3 linked regions of the Homo sapiens genome follow. The gene in region 1 interacts genetically with each later gene. Each region holds a gene or a part of one and is shown in the gene's direction. Other genes may lie near its edges.

Region 1 (3,295 bases):
TTTTTTGTAGCAATTATAATTTTTTTTTTTGGTAAAGACAAAATGTCTTACCATGTTGCCCAGGTTGGTCTCACTCAAACTCCTGGCCTCAAGTGATCCTCCCACTTTGGCCTCCCAAAGCCCTGCGTTTACAGGTATGAGCCACTGCACCCATTCCCTTTGCTGTGTTTTTCTGTGCTTATGTGTAGCTGCCAGAGAAGTCAGTCCTTGGCAGGCCTTTTTTTTTTTTTGAGACGGAGTCTCGCTCTGTCGCCCAGGCTGGAGTGTGGTGGTGTGGTCTCAGCTCACTGCAACCTCCATCTCCCGGGTTTAAGCAATTCCCTTGCCTCAGCCTCCCAAGTAGCTGGGATTACAGGTGCCCGCCATCACGCCTGGCTAATTTTTTTGTAGTTTTAGTAGAGATGGGGTTTCACCATGTTGGCTGGGCTGGTCTTGAACTCCTGACCTCGTGATCTGCCCACCTCGGCCTCCCAAAGTGCTGGGATTACAGGCGTGAGCCACCACGCCCAACCTTTTTTTTTTTTTTTTTTTTTTTTGATACGGAGTCTCCCTCTGTCGCCCAGGCTGGAGAGCAGTGGTGTGATTTCTGCCCACTGCAACCTCCACCTCCTGGGTTCAAGTGATTCTCCTGCCTCAGCCTCCTGAGTAGCTGGGATTACAGGCATGCGCCACCACGCCTGGCTAATTTTTTGTATTTTTAGTAGAGACGGGGTTTCACTGTCTTGGTCAGGCTGGTTTCAAACTCCTGACCTCGTGATCTGCCCGCCTTGGCCTCCCAAAGTGCTGGGATTACAGGCGTGAGCCATCGCGCCCGGCCGGTCCTTGGCAGGCTTTCTAAAGCAGAATTTCACAGCTTCTTACTCCAGAGGATGGATTAGGACTGGTGCCAGTGAGACTTCTTTGGGAGAGCCCTGGCCATCTCCTGGCTGCTGCTGTCCAGGGGCCTTTAGGACAGGCTGTACCATCTTTTAGAATTACCATGCTAGTTCTTTTAGTGATTCAAATTTCATCTCATTAAAGGATTTTAGAGCTGAAAAGACAAACACACCAAGGCTCACTTTTGGAAGGTTACCAAAAAATAGTGATTGCATGTAAAACGTTTTAAGATTTTTCCTTTGGAAATTAAAAGACAAGTAGTGTGATTGAATGTGCTCTTTGCCTGTGGCGCTGGGAGTATTTGGGTTTGCTCTAGCCTGCAGAATAGAAAGGAGGGGCTCTTGTCCCTTCTTGGGGGCAGGGTCCATCTTTCAATATTGCTGTTTAGGTATTTCACTGCTGTCAGCTGGGAAGTAAATGGAGGAGGAGGACTTCTCTAAATACCTTACTGTGGATTCATAACTTCCCCCCTTTGAATTCTATGGCCTTTCAGGTCTGTGGGAATGTATTTGGGATAATAAGGCAGGAAACAAGTGTGAGATGCTATCTTGTCTGTCAGAGGGCCAGCCATGAGAACCATCAGAAAAAAGTGGGCATACCAGGTTGCATTCTCCATCTAGCAGCCTGTGGTCACAGCAGCAAGATGTCTGGCTTTCCCTAACTTCAACCTTCAAACCATTTGTTCATCCCATTTAATTTTTAATTTTTATTTATTTATTTATTTTTGAGACGGAGTCTTGCTTGCTCTGTTGCCCAGGCCGGAGTATAGTGGTGCGATCTCAGCTTACTGCAACCTTCGCCTCCTGGGTTCAAGTGATTCTCCTGCCTCAGTCTCTCGAGTAGCTGGGATTACAGGCGTGCGCCACCACACCTGGCTAATTTTTGTATTTTTAGTAGAGATGGAGTTTTGCCATGTTGGCCAGTCTGGTCTCAAACTCCTGACCTCAGGTGATCCACCCCCTTTGGCCTCCCAAAGTGCTGGGATTACAGGCATGAGCCATCATGCCCGGCCCATCCCATTTAGTGTCAGTTTGTTTTAATCAGTATTTGATATTTAGATACTGACATGTTCAAATTCTATCTATCTGTAAAAAATGTTTTTTAGGTAACTTCCTAAATTATTTGTTTCTGTTAGAACGTTTGTACAGAATGATTTTAAACAGAGGAAACTTGTTTATAGATGCCCTTTAATGTCATCAAATATTTTCTTAAAAACCTTTATGATGTTTTTAATGCATTGAAACAAATTGTTCCAAAAAAACCAAATCAACAGTCTTTAAAATACTGAATTTTAGATAATGAAAAGAAGTGAAATGCTGAGGAGGCAGAGAAAAAAAATTTGAGAAATTACCTGATCATGGTAAAAATATCCTGACAGGACCAGTGGTTAGACAGGCAGAACTTCCTCGGGAGAGCCCCGCCCCTTCTGTGGCAAATCCTGTCTCCAGTTTCCTGCACATCCTACTCTGTGTTCAAAGGTTTCCCTGTGAGAGATTAGTTCACAGTTGCTGACACCTCACAATCTCCCTCACAACCTGCAGGAACCGTTACTTTGAGTTGTCAGAGGGTCATTCAGCTCATAGCTACTTTTCATAAACCATCCTAAAAATGTTCTTTATTGACTTGTAGATTTGTAAAAATTGTATCTGTTTAGGAAGGTGAACCTTCCGGAAAGAGAAAAGCAGAAGATGATGATAAAGCAAATAAAAAGCATAAGAAGTATGTGATCAGCGATGAAGAGGAAGAAGATGATGATTGAAGTATGAAATATGAAAACATTTTATATATTTTATTGTACAGTTATAAATATGTAAACATGAGTTATTTTGATTGAAATGAATCGATTTGCTTTTGTGTAATTTTAATTGTAATAAAACAATTTAAAAGCAAGTCTCTATGTTTAAGAAATCTACTTTTCCGGCCAGGCGCGGTGGCTCATGCCTGTAATCCCAGCACTTCGGGAGGCCGAGGCAGGTGGATCACAAGGTCGTGGTGGCGGGTGCCTGTAGTCGCAGCTACTCGGGAGGCTGAGGCGGGGGAATTGGTTGAACCCAGGAGGCAGAGGTTGCAGTTAGCCGAGATCGCGCCACTGCACTCCAGCCTGGCGACAGAGCAAGACTCTGTCTCAAAAAAAAAAAAAAATCTACTTTTCCCAAAGCGAACTGATTTTGTTAATGCTTTAAACAAACAAAGTCTTAGGTCTCAGTGAATTCCTGCTGCTCTCTCAACCCCCTTCCTCTCATTCCCCACAAAGAAGCCTTCTGGGCCAGGCTGAGATTCTCTCACAATTCTGGAGACTTGGAGTCCAAAATCAAGGTGTGGGACGGCCATGCTGCCTCTGAAGATTCTTGACAGGGATCCTTCCTTGCCTCTCAGTTTCTGGTAGTTCCTGGTGATCTGTGGCTTTTGACAGTATGAC
Region 2 (5,981 bases), on another chromosome or scaffold:
TCATGCATGTTTATTAATCTCAATAACAATCCTGTTTTTTTGCCCTCAAAATGTGTTCAAGATATTTGTAGATGTCATCTTCTTAATCCTTGTAGTATCCTGTTTGAGTAAGTGTCATCTTGGAAGTTAAGTAAGTTGTCAAGGGTCAGCTCACTAGGAAGTGGTGATACCAGAATATGAACCAGTTTCCCGAAGCCCAGAGCCTGAAGCCATGCGAAAGCCAGCAGGGTGACTCCTCCGGCTGCAGGCGAGTGGGCTGTGTTTCACCCGGTTTCTCCTTTTCTAGGTTACGGCCTCCGCTGCCACAGGGCCATCATCACCATCTGCCGGCTCATTGGCATCAAAGACATGTATGCCAAGGTCTCTGGGTCCATTAATATGCTCAGCCTCACCCAGGGCCTCTTCCGTGGGCTCTCCAGACAGGTAATCCTTTCCCGGGGTCTGAAACAGAGGTTCTAGTTTGTATTTCAGTTGTGTGTGTTGGGGCTACGATGCCCTGGGGCCTCCTGGAGATGCTTTCCTGGGGCCACCTGAGGAGTTGGGCATTCTTTGTTGTCTGTGACTGCATCAGTTTAGTTAAATCCATTGACAAGTTCATGAAAATTACCTTTTTTTTTTTTTTTTTTTTTTTTGAGACGGAGTCTCGCTCTGTCACCCAGGCTGGAGTGCAGTGGCGGGATCCCGGCTCACTGCAAGCTCCGCCTCCCGGGTTCACGCCATTCTCCTGCCTCAGCCTCCCAAGTAGCTGGGACTACAGGCGCCCGCCACTACGCCCGGCTAATTTTTTGTATTTTTAGTAGAGACGGGGTTTCACCGTTTTAGCCGGGATGGTCTCGATCTCCTGACCTCGTGATCCGCCCGCCTCGGCCTCCCAAAGTGCTGGGATTACAGGTGTGAGCCACCGCGCCCGGCCTGAAAATTACCTTTTAAAAAGTACTTCATGGGTTTTTCTAAGCAGCATTTTTAAAGCCAATAATTACAATCTACATGTTATTATGAAAATAACACCTGCTTGTTCTAAAGCTCCAACAGTATAGAAAAGTAAAATCAAAAGAGAAAGTTCATTTCCTAATTTAGTCCTTTCAGTTGGGGCTAGGATGAAGCACCCAGGGCACCTCTGCACACAGGGCAGGCACAGTCAGTTCCCTGTTACCTGTGTAGGTGGTTCGGACTGATGCCTGGGTTGGTAGGGAACTATGAACATTAACATATCAGGTTACTTTTCCTCATAGGTGGGAGCCCTGGGCCCGGCTCCCAATCACCCACCATGGAGGGCAGGGCTGTGACTGCACCGGGCCCCCATTCTTGGGCAGCTCCCCTACCTGCCCAGGAGGGCTGGCCTGTCTCTTGAAAGGATGGGTAGACCTTAGCATAGGTGGATGAACAGAAAAGACAACCAGGTTCAATAGGCTCCATTTGCTGAACTCTGTTAGCTGAGGACTTTGGCAGGCTTCCTGACATTTCAGGAGTACAGTGGTGGGTTTTAGGTAAAGTGATCCATGGAGTAATTTTACATGTCTCTGTTTAAAGTAGGAAAATTAAAAGAAAAAGAAGGCTTTGGGTAAAAGCCTTCTGTTTTCTGAACAGCTTTTGTGTGTGTTACTGTCTAAAACACCCTTCAGAGCACTTGTAAATTGAAACATTAGAGGTTTAATTAAGATGTTGATTTTAGATAGGTTGTATTTATGATCCAGTAGACTTGTTCTGTTTTTGGTTTTTGGTTTGTTTGTTTTTGCTTTTTGAGACAGAGTCTTGCTCTGTCACCAAGGCTTGGAGTGCAGTGGCTCCATCTCAGCTCACTGCAACCTCCGCCTCACGGGTTCAAGCGATTCTCCTGCCTCAGCCTCCTGAGTAGCTGGGACTACAGGCACGTGCCACCATGCCCGGCTAATTTTTGTATTTTTAATAGAGATGGGGTTTCACCATGTTGGTCAGGCTGGTCTTGAACTCCTGACCTCGTGATCCACCCGCCTTGGCCTCCCAAAGTGCTGGGATTACAGGCGTGAGCCACCGCGCCCAGCCTAGACTTGTTCTTTTATGTGATATCTTTGTTTTCTTTTAGTCTTTTAAACCTTCTGATATAGTTACCATATGTCATCTCTCCTAAAATGCCATCAGCTATAAAAGGTTGCATTATTTAATATGTCACTCAAAAAGGAAAAGATGCCACCACTTTAGGTGATATGCCTTTGATTGAAAGATACACCAATATAAATTATTTTGTTTATGAAATGGCTCATCTGTTTTCTAATTTCACACATACTGCAGGGCATTAGATATATAATTAGAATAGTGCAAGGCAGCCATAAGGCCTGGGATCACGGGATTGACATAGCAGGTATGTCATTGTACCATGAATAACGTCTACTGAACTAATCTGCCTGCTTCCAGATCTCTGTGGCTTCCCTCTGCAGTGAATCCCCATGGCCCTGTTACCCAGCTCATGACCAGTCTTGCTTCTTAGTACACCCCCAGTTATTTTGAACCAAATCTCAGACATTTTATTTCAACCCTAAATATTTTAGTATGTATCTTCGAAAAGATGAGGATTTTAAAAAATACCCTGTAATACTATTATCATACCTAAAAAGTTAACAGTAACTTGTATCATCAAATATCCAATCAATGTTCATACAAATGAGCAAATTCCATTTGTTAGATTAAAAAAAATTTTTTTTTTTTTTACACAATGTGTTTGAATCAGGTTGCAGAACAGGTTAATGTATGTTTTTGCTATGCCTTTTAAATAGGTTCCCCTCCTCTTCCCCCACCCCCGCCCCGCTTATGATTTTTTGTTGAGGAAACCAGGTTGTTTGTTTTGTAGTGCTTCCTGGCCTGTTGCTGACTAAAATACCTGTAGGGTCCTTAGTGTCTTATCTCCCCTATATTTACTGTAAATTGGTAGTTAGATCTAGGGGGTTGGTGAGATTCAAGTTCAGTGTTTGGCACAGCATGGTGCATAATCAGGAGGGTTTAGAAGGCAAGAGACCAGAGGCCAAGGCCCTTCCTCTATCCAAGTTTGGGGTGGGCAGATGCAGCAGATGAGGCTGAAATGACTCCACCCATGACAGGTTATTAGAGTTTAGCCACAAAACACATTAACCCAAATCCACTGAAATGGCCTTTGAATACCCCCAGGCTGTACTGTTGTGGCCTGTGGAAGTTCCTGCTCTTTATGTTGCAAATGTACTTCAGACCTAACCTGTTCTGAATTTGGTCTTGCTTAGGAAACCCATCAACAGCTGGCTGATAAGAAGGGCCTCCATGTTGTGGAAATCCGGGAGGAATGTGGCCCTCTGCCCATTGTGGTTGCGTCCCCCCGGGGGCCCTTGAGGAAGGATCCAGAGCCAGAAGATGAGGTTCCAGACGTCAAACTGGACTGGGAAGATGTGAAGACTGCACAGGGAATGAAGCGCTCTGTGTGGTCTAATTTGAAGAGAGCCGCCACGTAACCTCTCTGGCCTTGTGCAGCCAGTTCCTGTGCTGCCCTGCACCTAGGAGAGACTCAGCCCCTCACAGCTTGGGATGTTACCTTGCCTTTTGTTTGTTTTGAGGGAAGTTTAATCTTTAAACTCTTTGGAAATAAATAATTATAGCTTTCATTTGTTGAGCACATGTTATATGCCAATGTGATAGAACCTTTACATACATATCTCAGTTCAAGACTACTTTAAATATTCATCCAAAGTAACAAAAGTAAATGAATTAGGGAGACGGGGTTAATAATTTGACCCAATCAGTAATAATGTACACAATGATAATTGCTGTAGTAATTATAGCTAATATATATGAACTCATTCATCCAAAGTGAATGTGATTAACTTCATTTTACAGAGCAGTTAAGTAACTTGACTACCGTGAGGAACTTCCAAACCGTTTTCCACAGTGGAAATGGAAGTTGTAGGCTACTATTGGGAATGTTAAATGGTATATTAATTGTATACCATTGCAATTTTGACTTGTATTTCCCTGATGGCTGATGATGTTGAACATCTTTTCATGTGCTGATTGGCCATTTGTATATGTTTTTTGGAGAAATGTCTATTCAGAGCCTTTGCCCATTTAAAAAGTTATTTTTTATTATTATTGAGTTCCTTATAGTTTCTAGATATAAGCCCCCCTATCATACATGCTTTACAGAAGTTTTTACCCATTCTGTGGAATATATATATTTTTATTTCTTTGCATACTCTTTCTGCCCCACCCACATCCTCTTTCTGGGACACTGATGACCAAAATGTTGAATCTTTTACTATTGTCCCGTGAGTCCCTGAGGCGCTGTTTATTTTTTTTCCAGTCTGTTTTCTCTGTGTTGCTCAGTTTAGGTAATTTCTATTGTTTTATCTTCAGAATAACTGGTTATTTACTCTTTCCTTTCCATTCTGCTCTTGAACCATCCATGCAGTACTTTAACTTTGACTGTCATTGTATATTTCAGTTAAAATTTCCATTTGGTTTATTTTTTATGTCTTCTCTTTATTTGCTGAGGCTATTTGCTGAGACTTTTTTTTTCTTTAAATGGCTTCAAGAGTGTTTATAATTGCTCACTGAAGCATTTTTATGGTGGCTGCTTTAAAATCTTTGTCATCAGGTAGGTGTGGTGGCTCACGCCTATAACCCCAGCACTTTGTGAAGGTGAGGCAGGAGGATTGCTTCAGCCCAGGAGTTTGAGATCAGCCTAGGCAACAAAGTGAGACCTCATCTCTACAAAAAGTAAAAGTAAATTTAAAAGTTAGACACACATGGTGGTGTATGCCTGTAGTCCCAGCTACATAGGAGGCTGAAGTGGGAGGATCATTTGATTGCAGGAGGTTGAGGCTGCAGTGAGCCTTGTTCATGCCACTCCAGCCTGGGTGGCAGAGTGAGACCTTGTCTCCAAAAAAAAAAAAAAAATTGTCATAAAGTTTCAACATCTGTGTCATCTTAGTGTTGACATCCCTTGAGGTTTTTTCTCATTCAAGTTTACAATGTCCTAGTTCTTGTTATGATGAGTGACTTTGGCTGTATCCTGGTCATCTTCACTGTTATGAAGCTCTGGGAGTTATTTAAATCTCTCAGCATGCTTCCTCTGACGGTGCTGGTATGGGATGGGGCACTGCCTCGTTACTGCCTGGTGAGGATGGAGATCCAGGTTTCCTCCTGTCGCTGTCCTCGGGACCTCTGCTGAGGCCTTTCTGCTGGAAGTAGGAGGAGCACCCTAATGGCACCGTGGGATAGGGAGCAGGCCATGTTAGGCTGGATGGTGAAAGTTTTCAGCCTGTGACGTTGTCTGGTGTGGGTGGGTCCCCTTTTTTTGTGTGTGGTATTTTGCTAGAGTAAGGTAGTTATTTCCTAAAACTTATCTGTCCTGTTAGTTTTCCTTCTTAAGTACCTAACAAATATAAAGACAATGAACTTTAAGCAATAAAAGACAATGATCCTTTGGAGAGGGGAAACAAAATTATCTGTACTTACTATCTGCGGAGAGTCCGTGGTTCTAGGAAGGGTTACCCCATCAGGACCTGGCGGTCTCCTGGAGTTGAGGTGCAGTTGGGCAGTCGAAATGACTAGAGTTCACAGGGGAGAATGCCTTGGAGGAGAGAGTTGCACAGCAGGAGAACTAAGATCTGCAGAGAGTTTCCATCAGATATTTAGTTACACACTAATAGTGCATGCCGGTGAGGAAACTCACCCAAAAGAATTAGAGGGAACAGTGTTTGGAGTGGAAAATAGTGCCTGTTATCAACAGTCACAGTGGAAAACCTTGTAATCTAGGTGGCATTGGAAGAGAACTAAGATGCCCTAGTAGTAGAAAAATTAACTCTACATAAAAACTACCCCTGGTCCCAACTCAGAAAGCTTAAAAACAAGACCAAACTGGAACACAACTGTTTCAAAGTAACTTAATTGTGTTCCAGAACAAAGCTCAAGAATATAGGAATACAAAAAATATACCCAATAAAGTAAAATATACAATACTTGGCATCTAATAAATCACTAGG
Region 3 (7,079 bases), on another chromosome or scaffold:
TGAGGAGAGTTACAGAGATGAAATAAGTTTTATTTCCTGATGCTTGGCCCTACCAGGATCTATCAGTGGTTCCTCCACCACCAGAATTGTGCACGGTATTGAAATTTCTTTGCCAGAGCACAGACCGCCTGTCCAGCTTCCCTTTGCATAACTCCTCTGGGCACAACCCACTCTCCTGCCAAACTGAACTGCCAGCTCTACTCCATACGTGCCCTCTGGGCTATTGCTCATGCTGTTCCCTCTGCCTAAAAACTTCTAGAAAAAGAATTCTTCACCTTGCATCTCCAACCACCTAAATCCTACCCAACCTTCAAGGCCCATTTCAAATACTATCTCTTCCACGAAGCCTTTAAGGACGGCTCCGACTGTATGTGGCCTCTGAAGGGCCACAGCAGCAGGGCTCTATTGTAGGAAGCCTGTGGGCTTTACAGTCTGATCGACCTGGGTTTTAATACCTGCTCTGCCAAATGCTAACTGGGTGACTTTGGGCAGGTTTACTCCGAGCCTTACTTTTCCCATCTGTAAAATAGGATAATGATATCTATCTCAAAGAGTCCCTGTGAAGAGAAGATGCAGGCAAAGCCACCCAGAGCACAGTAGTTACTACATAAATGCTATGGGCGTCCCTTCCTCCCCTGTGTCTGTAGGTCTCTTCTGGCACTTACCTTGTGGTGCTTTGGAGTGGAGTTATCTAGAACTCAATTGTGCGACTACTCCAAAGAAACCATAATATTGAGGTCAGACAGATACTACATTAACCTTTTTTTTTTTAATATTCACACGTGGTACAGGGAAATCATGTCTCTTTTAAGGTTTTTTTTTTAAGTAGATACATTGAAGTGTAATTGACATACAATAGGCCACGTGTTTAAAGTGTACAATTTGACACGTTTTGACATCACCTGGGAAAACATCATCACAATCAAGACAAAATATCTACTCCCCACAAAAGTTTCTGCATGCCTTTCTGTAATACTTCCTCCTTGCCCCTGCCCACAATCCTCATCTCTAGGTGACTACTGATCTACTTTCTGTCACCATAGATTTGCATTTTCTAGAATTTTACATAAATGGAATCATACAGTATCTACTCTTTTTTTGTCTGGCTTCTTTCACTTAACATAATTTTTTGAGATTCATTCATGTTGTTCTGTGTACCAATAGTTCACTCCTTTTTATTGCTGAGTAGTATTCCAATGAATGGATATACCACAATTAGTTTCTTCATTCCCCTGTTGATGACATTTGGGTTTGTTTCTAGTTTTGGTTATTATAAATAAGGCTGCTATGAGTACTTGTATACATGTCTTTGTGTATATATACACTTTCATTTCTGGGGTAAATACCTATAAGTGGAATGGCTGTTTAACTTTTCAAGAAACTGCCAAACTTTTCCAAAGCAGTCGTACCATTTGATGTTCCTATCAGCCATGGAGAGTCTACATAAACTTTTTAAACCAAACGTTAAATATCAACTTCCTACTGTATAGAGAGGTTACTCTATTCATTTAAACTCCAAGAGGAAAATATCCCCTCCCTAAATTAAAAAAAATTGATTGAGTATCTACCATTTGTAAATAACATCCATATATGATCATTACATATTCCTTGGAACACTGCTGCTGAATGTGCATTGCTTTCCCATTTTACAGATGAGGAAACTGAGGTATGGATGGTTAATTAAGTGTACAACAAGCAAATGGCAGACTTGAGCCCAGACCTGTCTCATCCTCTCATTACATGCTGAAATTTGAGATGCCCCAAATAGAATTCTAGTTAACTGTTGTTAAAAATACAAAATCAGTACAGAACAACACATGTCCAACTTATGAAAAGAAGTATAACAAGTGAAAAACTGCTGACTTCTTGCTAGTTATGGGAAATTGGGAAGCCCTGTTCAGGTCTGGGAATCCCTATCGTGGTTACAGAGGTACCAGACAACCTCAAGCAAAGCCCAAATTCCTAGGGCCAAAGCATGGAAATGGCTGATTCAGCACACAAACCCAATGAAAATACACAGAAGGCCAAAGGCAAATGGTTGAAAGCCTTCCGTCTTTTACCTTGTCTGTGTGTTTCTCTCTCACCCATATACAGCCCATCGAAAATTAATGTAGTTTCTCAACTTTTTGTGCCTAAAATGCCCAATACCCCATCTCTATCTGCCAAAATTCTACCACCTTCACTGTAGCAGAGCCTTGTGAAAAGTAAGAATGTGGTTTGGACAGAGGATTGGGTTCAAATCCTGACTCTGTTACTTCCTAGCTGTGTATCCATAATGGTGGGCCAGTCATTTTGCTTCTCCTAACTTCTGTTCCTTTATTTGCAAGGTCAGCCTGAACTATCTCACTGAGTAGTGAGAGGGAGTACACACCAAGCACCTCTGCCACTTACCTGCTGAGTAGGATAAGTGTCTCAAGCCCTGTAAGGGTCACCTTTCTTACCTGGAAAGATAATAACATCTTCCTTGCAAAATTGATGTAATGATTAGAGAGATAGCATCCCATAGCATTCCTACCACCCTCTCTAGGAATCTATCTCCTATCCCTGTCCAGACCACAGATCCCTCTTTCCTATTAACTCAGAATGCCCTGGAATTCCACCAACTTGTGAATACAGAGCCCCAAGGTGGGAGTGCTTCACAGTCCCGACAACTAGCACTGGTTCAGCAAACCACTTCATATCGTCCAGCCTTGGTTTCCTCAGCTATAAAAACAGAGATTCCACTTTCTTCATCCAGGGTGGTTGGCAAAAAAGAGTGGCCACCTCTGTGTTTCCTCTGCTTCTCTCTACTACAGCTCTTACCACACTGAATCGCAGTTATCTGTTATGTCTACTTGTCGCATCATGTTTGAATGAACTTTCTGAAGACAGGGATTGTGCCCAGAGTCAATTACAGGGCCTGGTACTCGGTAGCCACTCAACATTGTTGAATTGCTGGGCACGGTGGCTCATGCAAGAGGATCACTTGAGCCCAGGAGTATGAGACCAGCTTGGACAACATAGCAAGATGCCGTCTCTACAAAAGGCGTTGAAAAATTTGCTGGGGGTAGTGGTGCACACCGGTAGTCTCAGCTACTTGGGAGGCTGAGGTGGGAAGATTGTTTGAGCCTAGGGGGTTGAGGCTGCAGTAAGCAGTGAACAGGCCACTGCACTCCAGCCAGGGCAACAGAGCGAGATCTTGTCTGAAAATAAAACAAAAACGAGAGAGAAAGAAAGAAAGAGAGGAAGGTAGGAAGGAAGGAAGGAAGGAAAAAAGGAAGGAAGGAAGGAAGGAAAAGAAAAGAAAAAAAAACTGTTGAATTGTTTTTTACTACTAGTCCACTACAGTGATTTGTGTATATAATCCTCTATAATAATCCCTAGATCGTGAACTCCTCCTGGAAGGAAGCGACCGTGTAGATTCAGATTAGCCAGTCTCTCTTCCCTAATCTTCGTGTTTGTTTTTATAGCATTTACCATTATCTGTAATTATTTTATCACTTATTTGTTTATTGGCAATACATCTCCAACTGGATTATAAACTCCATAAGAGCAAGGATCTTGACATTTTAAATATTCTTATTCCTATGTTTAAAACTGGCAGATAGCACACACACACAGTCAATGCACACACACATATAAGTATATATGGAATGAATGCATCTTAGCTTTGCTGCTTATTAGATATGGTCCTTGAAAAAATTACTCGGGCAAGTTTGTGAAAGTGCCTGGCACAAGGTGTTTCGCAGAAGCAAAAAGCCGTCTTTTTCCAGTCACAGCTATTCAAGGTATAGTAAGTGAATCAAATGAGCCCCTTACCTCCCATCTACATATTCCCCGATATATTTGCTCCCTGTGTACTCCATGGCGCCTGTTTTTAGCTTCCAGCTGTTAGGATCCGGAGTCTCAGTGGATACGGCATCACTATGACAACCTGGAGGGGTGGGCGGAGCCGAATCGAAGCCCCACCCCGCTGGAGGCTGAAAAGTTCTTGGTATTGCGCACGCTCCCTCGCTCGTGGTTGGGCAGGGCAATACGCCTGCGTGTTGCCGGATGCGCATGCGCAGGCGCCGTGTGGCACTCGGCGGTCGAAAGGGGAGTTCAAGGAGACGGGGGCGACGCGGCTGAGGGCTTCTCGTCGGGGTCGGGGCTGCAGCCGTCATGCCGGGGATAGTGGAGCTGCCCACTCTAGAGGAGCTGAAAGTAGATGAGGTGAGGCTATCCGGAGGACAGGCAAGGGAGACATGGGGCTGCGGCTTCTCGGGCCTGGGCCTAGCCCCCCTTGGGCTCCGCGGATCCTGGGACCCGGGCCCCCCTCCCCAGTCCTCCAACGCATATACAGGTCGACCCCCGGAGGTCCCCTCCGCAGCTTTGGGAGTCGCCTCCCCTCTCTACCCCACCCTGTCGCATCTTGCAGTGGCTCTAGAATCCTCCCCCTTTCGCCCTCCACAGCGACCTATTTCTCCTTCCGTGAATAATAGTGATACATTTTATTAAGCACCAACCAGTCATTTTACTTAGCTTATGTCGCTTAATCCTCAAACTTGCATGCGAGGTGAGTATACAACCCTAGGGGCTCACAGTCGAGGGAGACGGTCATCTACCTTAAAGTGGTATCACCGGTGCAGAGTGCATAGAGTGGGGTGACGAAGCCGCGGGAAAATGAGACAATATTGGAGCGTGCATCTACTCACAGCCTTGGGAAGGTGTTTGGTAACAGGACCCATTTAAAGCATTCGTTTATTCAAGAGATATCATTTCAGTAATTAACGTGTACACATAACGCTGGAAGAGATATACTTCGTGCTTTCATGGACTTTACAATCCAGTAGGGAGACAGACACATAAAGAGGCAGTCACAGTACAATGTAGTTAGTGCTGTGAGGAGTGAAGTAGAAACATACCCTACTAATTATAGCTAACATGATCAAGTCCTTTCTAGATACCAGGCAGGATGCTAATTACTTTCCATGCATTAATTCATTGAATCCTCCCAGCAACACTATAAGGTAGGATATATATATATATACACACACATACACATATATATACACACACACAATTGGTGTGTATATATATATACCATATATATATATACACAATTGGTGTATATATATATATGTATATACCATATATATATACACACACACAATTGGTCATATATATATATATACACACACACACACAATTGGTCGTAGCGTTATAAATAAGGAATTAGTCCCCGAGAGTAGAAATGATTTGCCCAAGGTCACGGAGCTCGTAAGTAATAGAGCTGGAAGTGAACCCAAGTCTGATTTTAAAACCAATGCTTTTCCACTATATTATGGGTGAAAACTCACAAGAATGAGACGGCCTAGCAGAACTTGTGTGTTTAGGGAGCCAAGTACAGTTTGATGTGACCCTAGTGGTGGTGGTGGGAAGCAGCAGGTGCTGAGCCTGGAGAGGCAACTTGGGCTGAGATAGGACTTGGAAGCAGCTTCTACAAGGCCAGACCAAACAGTTTGGACTTGATCCAGTAAGGGAGGTGGTGGGAAGAGTGGAAGGTTTTAAGGCAGAGGAGTGTCATGGCAGGGCTGGATAGTAGAACAGGCTATATTAAAGGAGAGGAAGGCCAAGACTAGAAATGATGTACCAGCAATGATATACCCGGCACTATGTTAAGTGTTTTGTTTGTTTGTTTTGTTGTTTTTGAGAGTCTCGCTCTGTTGCCCAGGCTGGAGTGCAGTGGCGCGATATTGGCCCACTGCAACCTCCGCCTCCCGGGTTCAAGCGATTCTGCTGCCTCAGCCTCCCGAGTAACTGCGACTACAGGCGCTCATCACCACACCCGGCTAATATTGTGTATTTTTAGTAGAGACGGGGTTTCACCGTGTTAGCCAGGATGGTTTCGATCTCCTGACCTCGTAATCTGCCTGCCTCGGCCTCCCAAAGTGCTGGGATTACAGGCGTGAGCCACCGCGCCTGGCCGTATGTTAAGTCTTCTACCTGCAATGCTTCATTTAATCTTAGATGCCTGTGAGAGTGGCAACTGTTATTTTCCTCAGAGGAAGAAATTATTAGCTATGTTCAGGGACTTTATTATATTAAAGTGACATTTACTCTGAGGTGGCAGAGGGGAGCTGCCATGTGGCCCCCACTCTTTTGTTCCCCCCGGCGAACCACCCCCCTGCCCCCACCCCATGTAGCTGGGTTAATCTTGAGTTGCTGTATTTCTTGTTGCAATTTTTATTAGGTTCAACAAACATCTGAAGTTCTACTTCATACAACTGATGTATCTGAAATACATTTGCCTTTAGTCTTCACACAATTGAATGAACATACGAATAATTACATAAATAACTAAAATACAAGACAAGGTGTGATTAAATACTATGAAAGGGGGAAGATGTGGTTTAGGAAAAGATTTGAAGTTGTATCTAAATTCTAGGCCTACCTGCCGGTCACCTTGATTACTTGATTTTAGCATTTGCAGACATGGTTATTTGTAAGATGAGGTGATCCCAGCTATAAAATTCTCTGAAACTATAAAGGGAATAGAGAAAGCACTTTTTGGACATAATGTAAGACATGACTAAATGGCATATGAAGAATGGCATTTATGGGCGGAGATGAAGAGAAGACCCCTCTAAGTGAGGGTAGGGTCTGAGCAAAAGTAAGGAGATGGGAAAATGCAGAGAGTCAAAAAGGAGTTCAGTGTTTTGAGAGAACAGTAAATAGTCAGTCCCTTTTTGAAATGTTGTGGTGAGAAGGGTGGAAAGATAGTTTGGGTCCAGAAGCCTTTCAGTACCCGTTAAGAAGTTTAGGCTTTATTCTGCTGTTAAGGCTGAATGAGAGTTTGGTTGCTAATATAATAGCAGAGTAAAATAAGAATTGTCATTTAGGGAGATCACGGTAGCAGCTGTGTGAAGAATGGATTGAAGAAAGAAAAAGAAAAGCAGGGAGACTAGTCTCAGTGGCTCTTAAAATTATTGAGAAAGATGTTAATGATCCCAGTGTAATTGGTGCTTACAGAGACTGTGCTTACAGAGAGCAAAGAACAAGTATATCTAGAATTGATCAGACTTAGCAATGGATTAGATATTGGAGGTAGGGAAGGTTGA

Evidence for each region. Genes that interact genetically often act in the same process or in processes that back each other up.
Region 2: of LEO1 (region 1) and MRPS5, a change in one rescues a mutant of the other (synthetic rescue), as found in Homo sapiens cells (one study listed by BioGRID).
Region 3: of LEO1 (region 1) and NDUFA8, a change in one rescues a mutant of the other (synthetic rescue), as found in Homo sapiens cells (one study listed by BioGRID).

Annotation. Positions count from the first base shown.
Region 1 is NC_000015.10:51,937,496-51,940,790, reverse strand, and holds the end of LEO1 (RNA polymerase-associated protein LEO1), read left to right. Parts: intron 1-2,505; coding exon of another isoform or gene 2,506-2,530; coding exon 2,531-2,635; 3' UTR 2,636-2,766; downstream 2,767-3,295. UniProt on the Homo sapiens protein: Component of the PAF1 complex (PAF1C) which has multiple functions during transcription by RNA polymerase II and is implicated in regulation of development and maintenance of embryonic stem cell pluripotency.
Region 2 is NC_000002.12:95,084,828-95,090,808, reverse strand, and holds the end of MRPS5 (small ribosomal subunit protein uS5m), read left to right. Parts: intron 1-286; coding exon 287-423; intron 424-3,227; coding exon 3,228-3,452; 3' UTR 3,453-5,440; downstream 5,441-5,981.
Region 3 is NC_000009.12:122,156,739-122,163,817, reverse strand, and holds the start of NDUFA8 (NADH dehydrogenase [ubiquinone] 1 alpha subcomplex subunit 8), read left to right. Parts: upstream 1-4,038; 5' UTR 4,039-4,140; coding exon 4,141-4,191; intron 4,192-7,079. Other genes in the region: MORN5 (MORN repeat-containing protein 5), read right to left, coding at 3,799-3,845. UniProt on the Homo sapiens protein: Accessory subunit of the mitochondrial membrane respiratory chain NADH dehydrogenase (Complex I), that is believed not to be involved in catalysis. Complex I functions in the transfer of electrons from NADH to the respiratory chain.